3 separate regions of the Homo sapiens genome follow, and all the other regions are reported to be linked to region 1. Evidence: microRNA targets listed by miRTarBase, many of them from high-throughput screens and not tested one by one. Region 1 holds a microRNA gene; each other region holds the end of a gene's coding sequence.

What was found. The annotated mature microRNA hsa-miR-377-3p reads AUCACACAAAGGCAACUUUUGU and lies in region 1 at 1,164-1,185, opposite strand. An mRNA with a match to its seed (bases 2 to 7 or 8) in the 3' UTR can be bound and repressed. Matches are read on the target gene's strand: a 7mer-m8 pairs with bases 2 to 8, a 7mer-A1 pairs with bases 2 to 7 and ends in A, and an 8mer does both.
Region 2: miRTarBase lists LRRC32 as a target of hsa-miR-377-3p. Seed matches in the 3' UTR shown: 7mer-A1 at 2,330-2,336.
Region 3: the mRNA of MGAT4C is a reported target of hsa-miR-377-3p. Seed matches in the 3' UTR shown: 8mer at 2,037-2,044.

Annotation. Positions count from the first base shown.
Region 1 is chr14:101,059,929-101,063,278 of GRCh38, reverse strand. It overlaps MIR377 (microRNA 377), which reads right to left and starts at 1,229; the gene lies at 1,161-1,229. It overlaps MIR496 (microRNA 496), which reads right to left and starts at 2,706; the gene lies at 2,605-2,706.
Region 2 is chr11:76,656,857-76,659,856 of GRCh38, forward strand. LRRC32 (leucine rich repeat containing 32) reads right to left here. Exons shown (of 3, transcript NM_001128922.2): 3 at 668-3,000. The coding sequence ends at 2,748. LRRC32-AS1 (LRRC32 antisense RNA 1) reads left to right here and starts at 140. Exons shown (of 3, transcript NR_199061.1): 1 at 140-300; 2 at 2,752-2,838.
Region 3 is chr12:85,976,473-85,979,822 of GRCh38, reverse strand. It overlaps MGAT4C (MGAT4 family member C), which reads left to right. Exons shown (of 5, transcript NM_001351288.2): 5 at 1-3,350. The coding sequence ends at 534. Among named protein-coding and RNA genes, the nearest start is that of NTS, 100 kb to the right of the region's middle.

The DNA.
Region 1 (3,350 bases):
GGACGCCTTACCAGTGTGTCACGCCTGAAGTCAGCACACCTTTCCGGGAAGCTCTCGGGAAGGTTTGGGGCAGCAAGAAAAGATCAACTGCATAAAGGGGGAGACTGTATCCCATTTTTTGACCCTAGGTTCCTACTGACCCCACCAACTCCACTGTAAACACGCACAAATGTAACCACCTTCACAAGAATTGTACCAACACTGATATTCATAGAAACGTGTTTTTCAGAGCCAATGCCATTATACTAATCCAATTCCCTGTTTAGCTTTCCTGACCGCGCTGTTGAGCTGTTTTCATTTCTCTTATTTCCCTTGTTATTTTCCCCAAATCATTTTCATTAGGATCAATTTTTTCCATTTAAAAATCTGCATGAAGATTTGATTCCTCAATGTGTTCTTGTCTACATCAAATATCACTGTTTATCACCGCCGCCACCGTGAATTTCCTTCCATGGCTGCCACGTCGGCAGCTTGCTATTTCCCCAGGTCAAATGTCACAGCTGAAATGTTGTCAAGAAAATTGGATTCCTCTGCCAATTTGTAGTCAACTGAACACATTTAGCACTGTGCCGTTTCAGCTGTTTTTAGTTTTATTTTGTGTTGATTATTTTTATCAGTATTATTTAATACAAATGGGATGAGATACTGATAGCCTCTATTTGTTTCATAACCCAGGAGAAAATTGGGAACAATGTTTGGTTGGGGGATAGAAAGAGAAAGATAGAGACAAGGAAAGGTGCAGAAAGAAGCACAGTGCTTGTGAGCTAGACGGGGGTCTGGGGCTGCAGACTCGTCACAGACCCTGCCAAGTGTGAGCTCTTTGTGTATCCGCGAGGTCAAATACCTTCCGAAAAAAAAATGGTGGAGTCAAAATGTCTTTGGGATCAACACAGCCAAAATGGTGATGTAAAGAGACAGGGTCCAGGGTAAGAGCTAAAGCCGACGCGACACCAACGCCATCCTCCCCGGGCCGCGAGCCCCGCCCCCATCATGAATGAAGCTTGTGTTCTCTGAGCGACATCTGTTCTCATCCACCGCAGAGGACCGCAGAGGGCAGACCACCCACGTCTACCCCGTCCATTCTTGCTCACGGGAGGGGTGTAGATGCCCCTGAGCTTGCCACTGGGTCCCGGAAGCCATCCCAAGCAGGATTTGATACTCAAACAAAAGTTGCCTTTGTGTGATTCAACATAAATAAAGCGAATTCACCAAGGGCAACCTCTGCTCAAGGGTCAAACATCAGCACGGGCAAGAACACACCGAGATGCCTCTTCACCAAAGGCGGCATTGCCTGCGGGACCTCCCTGCTGACTCCAGCTGCAGGCTCGCTGGCTTGCTGGCTCGCTCTCTCCCCTCTTGCTCTCTCTCTCTCTCTACCTCCGAGAAGCCCCCCAGGCAGTGGTCAGAACATGGTTGGTCATGGACCAGCTTCTGTAGCCCTGGAGCAGGCAGTGGGGGCGAGGCTATGCACACACACATCACAGGTCAGCCCGAGCTAGAGTCAGCCCCTGGTCACCTACCCTAGAGGGGCTGGAACACCAAGGTCCACCTCCAGAGCCGGTATCTCCTCTGGAAGTCTCTGAAGCAGGATTTCACACAGAGAAGGGGGCTGCCAATGAACCATGTGACCGTGTTCAGTCCAGCCTACAGGGGTTTGAGGGAGGACCCGACCTGAAGGCTGGCGACTCCTCGTCCAGCGCAGCATCCTCAGAGGGTGGGTGGGGCTGCGTCACAGGGACAGCACAGGCTCAGGTGACTGTACTCCATGCACTCCATTCCAGGAGGCCTCAAAGAGAGTTCAACCAAGAAAACAGGTCACGCTGCCTATTCATTCATTCAGCATCACACCTACTGTGCACATCTGGCGACACAGCACCAGGCAAAACAGACAAGGACTCTGCCCTCAGGGAGCTTCCATTCTAGTGGCGAGAGGACAATGAGTGCAGATGACATAACATTCATATAATGACCATCCTCAGAAACAATGCTTATCCTACAGCCACGTGCCAGACGCTGTCTAGACACTTCACAAAGAGCACGTTTCCACTCCGCTGTTAACCCTGCTTTACAGAGGAAGAGACTGAGGCCCAGAGAGCTGATAGGTGAAGGGATTTTCCAAGGGCACACAGCTGGCAACATAAGGTAGTAATAAATGCTATTAACAATTCTCGTCTTGCAGTAGGAATAACCGAGTCGTGCCATGGAAATGTGTCTTTAAACAACATTAATTCTCACTGCTGAGGAAACCCCCTTCACCCCTTGCTTCCCAGAGGTCACCCAGAAGATAAGGTATTTGAGGGCGTAATGTGGATGTCTTCCATTCAGCCAGGAGTTCCTTTCCCTAAAGTGTGCCACACAGCCAAGATGATTTCACACCTAAAAAGGTTGACTAAATGTGGTTTATTCACTGACGAGTCTTCAAGGATGCGACTAGAAGACCACCATGTCAACTAAAACGTCAGCATCATTTCGGGGAATTCCTCCTAATGATGGCCGGGATATGAGCCAAGTGATGTAAGTCACACAGAGAGCACCTGTCATGCGGAGGTGATCCACTTCCTTACCCTGCGCAGGTGCCGGCTGGGCTTTCCCCTCGTGACGTTTCCCAAGAAGAATTGAGTACCGAAAGGAGATTGGCCATGTAATACTCATCATAAATAAAATGAACACACCATGGACAACCTCCATTCGAGTACCTGACTTGGGTGCTCGCTTCCAGCGCGTCCCAGCAGCAGGCCTGAGGACGGACGGGATACTGAGAGTCAGGAAGGTGGCAACACACCACCCACGAAATAAGCTCTGCGGTCCGGGCCGCACTCCATCCCTTACTTGCAATTAGCACCTCTTGCAGGAAGCCATTCAGGGAGGGAAGTGCCACAGCAGAGAGGTCTGCAGAGCACCATCTGTGATACATGAAGAGAGGGCAGCAGGGAAGACAGCAAGACGGTGTCTTGTCAAACATGCAGTGAGCCGATGAGGGAACTGCCGCCTCTTTCGAGGAAACTGCCATGGTAAGCAAGCAGGACGCCTGCAGGTGCACGACCCACCAAGAAGAGTGTGCACACTGTCAGCTTCGCCGTGCGTTCAGGCATTCAGACACCAGTTCTAGTTCCTAAACTCGGCACCACCCGAGGGTGCTTTAAGGCTAGATTTAATGCTTTCAAAAGAGTCCACTATGTAGGATTGGTCAAAAAATAAATCGAATGCATCATGGAAGACCTCTCCACCAGTACCACAGAGTAGCTCTGATAGGAAAAGCTCCACTTCTTCCCCAAAGGTGGCACCATCTCTAGAAACCTCCCCAAGGACGGGGCACACACAGGGTTAGGGCCAGGGCACACTGCTGGGTC
Region 2 (3,000 bases), not on the chromosome of region 1:
CCTAGGGAGAGGAGGTCTGAAAAGCGTGCTGAGTTTGGCAAAGGATACCCTTGACGCTGTTAGCAAGGGCAGCATGGAGCTGGGAGGGGCTGAAGGCAGCTCCAGGCGGGTTGAGAACGGGAGGGGCGGGAAGGGAAGTGACTTTACCAAGAACCTGGCCTGTGAAGAGTGGGAGGACGAAGGGGAAAGTGGCTGAGGGGCTTCTCACTATTTTTAAGACGGACAAGACTTGAGTCCAGCTGAAGTCTGAGAGGAAGACGTAAACAGGGAGAGGCTGGAGGCAGAAGAGAGCATGACGGGGTAAGGGAGAGAGGACGGGGCTGGGGACCCCAAGGAGGAGGGGCAGTGCAGCCTCTGAGATAGGGCACAGAGGGCTGAGCACAGAGAAGGGGAGGGGGCCTGTAGCTGTAGCAGGAAGGAAACAAACGGAAGCCCTCAGCCTCTCAGCCCTGGGGTGGGGAGCACAGTCGCCTGTTGAGTGTGGGGCAAGAGGTGTAGCAGGGGCCATGCTAGTGGCTGCGGCTTCAAGGTCCAGGGTGGTGCTGGCCCAGAGTCTCAGTGTCCCCAGGGATTTGCCATGATGATTGAACGACCGTAATGGGATTGAGCGGCAGGGTTCTAGTGGACGCAATGAAGCGGATTGCAAAGAGGAAGCTGGCAGCCACACTGCTTCTCCAAAATTAGTTTTTAATACATTCAGGTAGGTTATACAAAGAGTTGGTCCCGAGGCCTGGGCTGAGGCCTGGGCCCTGGGAAGTGACAGCAGCCCTGTGTAGTGTTTTCAAAGATCAGGCGTGGGGACCCACACCTTGGCCTCCAGGCCTAAGGAGGAGTGTTACGTGCAGTAGCACCCGTGGGTGTGATCCCAACCAGGACTGGGTCTGCCTGGGTGCTCCACACACCACCAGGGCCTAGCCCTGGCTCTGCCCATTGACTCTCCCTTAACTTCCTCTGGGCCTTGGTGTTCTCCTCTGTAAAATGGGGTGGAGAGAGTGGCATTTTCACTTTCTCGCACATTACTGAGCCCACATCATGAGCCAGACTGTGGGCCAAGCACAGGTAAGATGATGAAGACAGCAAAACAAGGTCTTGAGTTGGTCCCAGCACGTCCATTCTTCCCAGACAGCTCATGACTCCATGGTATGAGGGATGGGGGTCATCTGGGTGAGGCTTTTTACCTGTTTTTGTAAGAGGGAAAAAAGATCCTTGCATGATGAGGCACAGAAAGGAAGTTTGGAGCCAGCATTATCTTGTGATGTGATAGCTGAGAGAGGACATCACTCTGGTCCAACCCCCAATCTCACCCCACAAATAAGGGCTCTTTTTTCCCCCAGAGGCTCTGTATAAGCTCTCCACAAGTTTCATTCTCTTCCTAAGCCTCAGTTTCCCCATCTGTGCAATGGGGAGGTTGGATTCCATAGTCTCAAACTCCAGGCTCTGCTCAATAGAGGAAAAGGGAATGAGAGAATGCAAGAGCACAGAGAGAACAGGAGAACCCACACCAGGGTGGAAAGGAAGGGAGGAGGGAAACAGGCAGAGAAGGAGGAGAGCGCCTGCAGCTGCCTGCCTGGGAGAGAGGAGAGAGCAGGTGTGCACAGCACAGGATGCTTCCAGACCCTGCTCGGGCTATGTGGGGCCACTTCCTGTCCACTTAACGGCCTGCAGCCCCTGCAGTGGTAAAGATCAGGCCCTGGAGACAGAAGGATGAAGGTTTGAATCTCACCTATGGCATTAGTTAGCTGGGGCCCTGGAAGGAGATTTTCAGAACTTCAGTTTCCTCTTTTATAAAACGGGGATAAAATATAGAGCTGTCACATAGGGGCAGACACAAGGCTTGGATTCAAATCCACATCTGCCAAGCTGGGTGCAAAACAGAACCAGATATCTAAGGTTTTAGCTCCTGGCTCAGCAGCCAAGGTGGGGCTGCGATGGAGAAGTGGGGCTGGGCAGGGACGGTGCTTAGAGCAGCACTGGGGTCAGGGTATGCAACATGAGAGTGCCAGGAAGGGAGAGGGCAAGTCCAGAGCAGGAGACGGAATGGTCCAGTGCTGGGCTGGACCCCTTAACCAGACCCTGCTGGAGCCGCCGTGGCCCACCTAACAACACCAGATCCGAGACACACTCGTACAGCTCCAATTCTCTCTTCTGGTCCTAAGCTTTTCATTTTCAGAGAGACTGAAAGTCATTCTCAGAAGACGTGACAAACAGTCTGCTTGGAAATGTCTCAGACAAATCCTCCTGGGCTTGGCCCTCCCTCACCCTGGCACAGCCGGGGCAGGACTCACCGCACCAAACCAGCGGGGCCTGCCGAGCTCTGGAGCCCTGGGCTTTCACACCTCAGGCCCTAAGCACACTGCGTGGCGGCCACGTGGCTCTGCAGCACTCTCTCCTACCAGACTGGGAGATTCTTGAGGGCGGGAATGTATCTCATTTCCCAGCATTCCCAGTGCCCAGAGCAGGGTGTGGCACAAAATACATGCTCAGTGAAGATTTGTTGATCTGACAGGTCAACATTATTCTCGGCTGTCCCTGAAACCGCCCAACTTCTGGCTTCCACAGCTGGACCCAAAGTGCAGCCCGGGAAGGGGGTCACCCACTGATGCAGCAGGCGGCAGAGAAAGGTGTCCTGGGCTGTAATTTGGAGACCAGAGTTCTGGGATCCCGGATCACTGTGTGACCTTGAGTCAGTCCTCACTCTTCTCTGTACCTCAGGCTCCCCCACTGACCTAGAGTGTCTCCCGGCTTCTTTAGGCTTTATACTGTTGGTTAAACTTCTGCCGGCGGACGCAGCAGCAGGCGGCCAGCGTGGTGAGGAGGATGGCAGAGACCAGTATGAAGGTGAGGATGATGATGAGGTTGATGTTCTTCAGTCCCCCCTTCTCACAGTCCTCGGGACGCACGTGGCTCAGGGACACCTCCTCCTGGGAGCTGAAGCGGCAGATCAGGTCCTGGGTGGCGTCCACGTCCACACGGCCCTGGTGCAGCTGGGCTGCCAGCCAG
Region 3 (3,350 bases), not on the chromosome of region 1:
ATCCGTTTTAAACCATCTCTCTTTCAGCACATGGGCTATTATTCATCATACAAAGGGACGGAGAATAAGCTGAAGGATGATGATTTTGAAGAGGAGTCATTTGACATTCCTGATAACCCCCCTGCAAGTCTGTACACCAACATGAATGTGTTTGAAAATTATGAAGCAAGCAAGGCTTACAGTAGTGTTGATGAGTACTTTTGGGGGAAACCACCTTCAACAGGAGATGTTTTTGTGATTGTATTTGAAAATCCAATTATAATAAAAAAAATTAAAGTAAATACTGGAACAGAAGATCGGCAAAATGATATTTTGCATCATGGAGCCCTAGATGTTGGGGAAAACGTTATGCCTAGCAAACAAAGGAGACAATGTTCTACTTACTTAAGACTAGGAGAATTCAAAAATGGAAACTTTGAAATGTCAGGTGTAAATCAAAAAATTCCATTTGATATACATTGTATGAGGATATATGTCACCAAAACACAAAAGGAATGGCTAATTATTAGGAGTATTAGCATTTGGACTTCTTAGCCAATTAAATCAGTATGTTCAGTTTCTGAAGCAGTTCTTCCTGCTTCGTCTTTTGCTACCTTTGTCTTTTGGAGGGAAAGCAATGGATGGGATATGTTAAAAGAAACATTAATTACATTGGCAGTTTTCATTTATACATTGTTGACATAATTTTACTCTTAATACACACTTGTATTTATTTTAACGTCTGAAGTTGAATATCAGTCTATAGCTAATGCTACTTTCATTTATATTTTTAAATGTTCTTAGTTTTAAAATTTCAACTGATTGTCGAAAGGGTAATATGAAAGATTTTAAATGAAAAAAATTTGTTGGATGATGATTTTTGAAAAATAGTCACCAACTGTATATACTTCCTCAAGAACTGATAATTCATTATATCATCAGATAGCTTTTATTAAGCATCTGTGGGAATATACAGTTGGGTGGAATGATAATCTGGTTTATTTTTTCTGTAAACTTAAGTTTCCGTTGACTTCTGTACATCTACAATGAATACCTCCTCATAGAAGTGGTGTCTTTACATAATTTTTTGTGTAGGTGACACTATGGAAAAAGAAAAAAAAGACTTAAAAATATCTCTCCCCTGATTATTTATATGAAAGGGGATATTGTTCATTGTTTAAAAACATTTAATTGAGCACCTATTGTTGATAAATTTTCTGGGGGAAGCAGTCTTTTTCAAGTTTCCCTTTTGAAAAAAAAAAAGAAGAGTTAAGCTCAATATTTTCAGGTTACATTGAGTACCCACATTTAATAGAATAAATTAGGGAAGGCCTATAGTAGTTAGCTCATTCGTACAGACATTTTCAGTATATGCAGAAAATTTTTGGAAATTGATTTTATACATTTTGTATTAAAATCCATGTGATTGAAATTATTGTGATTTATCATATACCTTTTTGGAATTTAAATGGGTATATTATAAAGGAGAAAAGTAAGAACCATAGAAATTAGTTGACTTTTCTAGAATCAAAGATCTATTTCCTAGCAAGGCCAGAATGAGAGATCTGATATTCTGATAACCAGACAATGCTCTTTTTCTCGTATGATTTCTCCTGACAGATTTATGCTTTGTGTTCTATTTGCTACATGCCTGTCAGATAATAAGTTATACCATCTGGAAATAGGTGGTACAATTCCTGCATAAATAATATTATCCTAAATAATGTCCTAAATGATGCTTTTTTGGTATAAGCACCCAAATAGTAAGCAAACTTGACTAAACTTTTCCTAATAGGGATTGGAGAGTGTGTCTTTACAATGTGTCCGTTAAAGTAATTCAGGACACCTTAGTGTGTCCTAAAGACATTGGTTTTCAGAATGTCCTGAGCTTGTCTCTTCCTTTTTGTTTTTTAATGAACAGCAAAAACTAAGGGATTTATTATAAAGGGAAATGGAAGGTGCTTCATATATGTTTAAGAAACTCAAGTACGTGTTCATATAGATGACTCTGTGTGTGTGTGTGTGTGTGTGTGTGTGTGTGTGTGTGTGTGTGTGTGTGTGTGAAGGCTAGACTTTTGCTGGTAAGACAGAATGAGGAAATCTTCCTGCTCTTCCTTTTCATACTGAAACACAATCCTTAAGATTTACTGGTATGCTGTGGTGCAAACAACACTAGGATATTTTTATTTTATTCGTTCTCTGCAAATAAATGAGAAACTCAGATAAAAAATGGAAACTTTTTATTTCATTTATAAACAGCTGTTGTGTATTTTCTTTGTATTCAGCTACTAAAGTGTTAGAAGAAAAACGAACCTTTCATAAGAGGCTAAATATTAATATTTTGTGAGGCACCTAAATCTTACAGTCATAGGAAAATATGAACACTGCCACTAAATTATTATCTTTACCTTGATTTAGAGGATACTTGCCAGACACCTAAAAATGTTCTATTTTCTTTATTTTTCTTATCTTTTATTAACCGGCTAGTTGATAGTATTGTGTGTATATCTCAGAAGTTACAAATGGCATTATTTTCTTCACTGTCAATGATAAAAGGTACACAATTGTATGCCAAAGACATGTAATATCAAGAGCTAGGCAGACTCCCTGAAATGAGTTGTAACCCCTTACATATTCTTCTGGGAATGGCTTTCTAAAGATCAGCTATTGGTGTCTATCAATGTCTTAAAAATGTTTCAAGAAACATTGCTGAGGGTAGCAGTGAAGTTGGATGTTTGCTAGGAAATTATGAAAACAAATGTGACTCAGAGAGGTCATTTCACATTTTATCTTTATATCCTCTCTTTACTAAACCTGTGTTTGGATAAGTTGGTCAATCATCCAAGGATCCTCTATGTTTTCTTTACAGTTGACACTGGGTCAATTTTCTAAGGAAAACACCTTGACAAATAAAGCATCTTCATTAGAGGTCAGGAGGAAAAATAACTATTCTCTTTCAAAAGAAAATCTGAACAATTTTTTTAGCATGGCCCAATGTTCTATTTCCTATATTTAGAAACTTTGAATAAGGGTCTAGTAATCTTGTCTCAGAGGCATAGAAACAAAAGTACAGTTATTAGGTTTAACTATACTCAAACTATTTGCTATTTTTAAACATTTTTGCTGTAAGTTTATATATATATACATATATAATACATATATACATATATATAATATATATATACATATATATATAATTTTCTTTGTTAAAAATAACAATTGAAAAAGACTGGCATGAGACATGAATGGCTGAGTCATTTAATTGCCATACAAATAAAATGCTGACAGGTTTCAAGCAAAAAATACAGTATGCACCTTAAATAATGCCTCAGAATTGTATAATTTAAGCTCACTAAAAACCTTACTTAGTC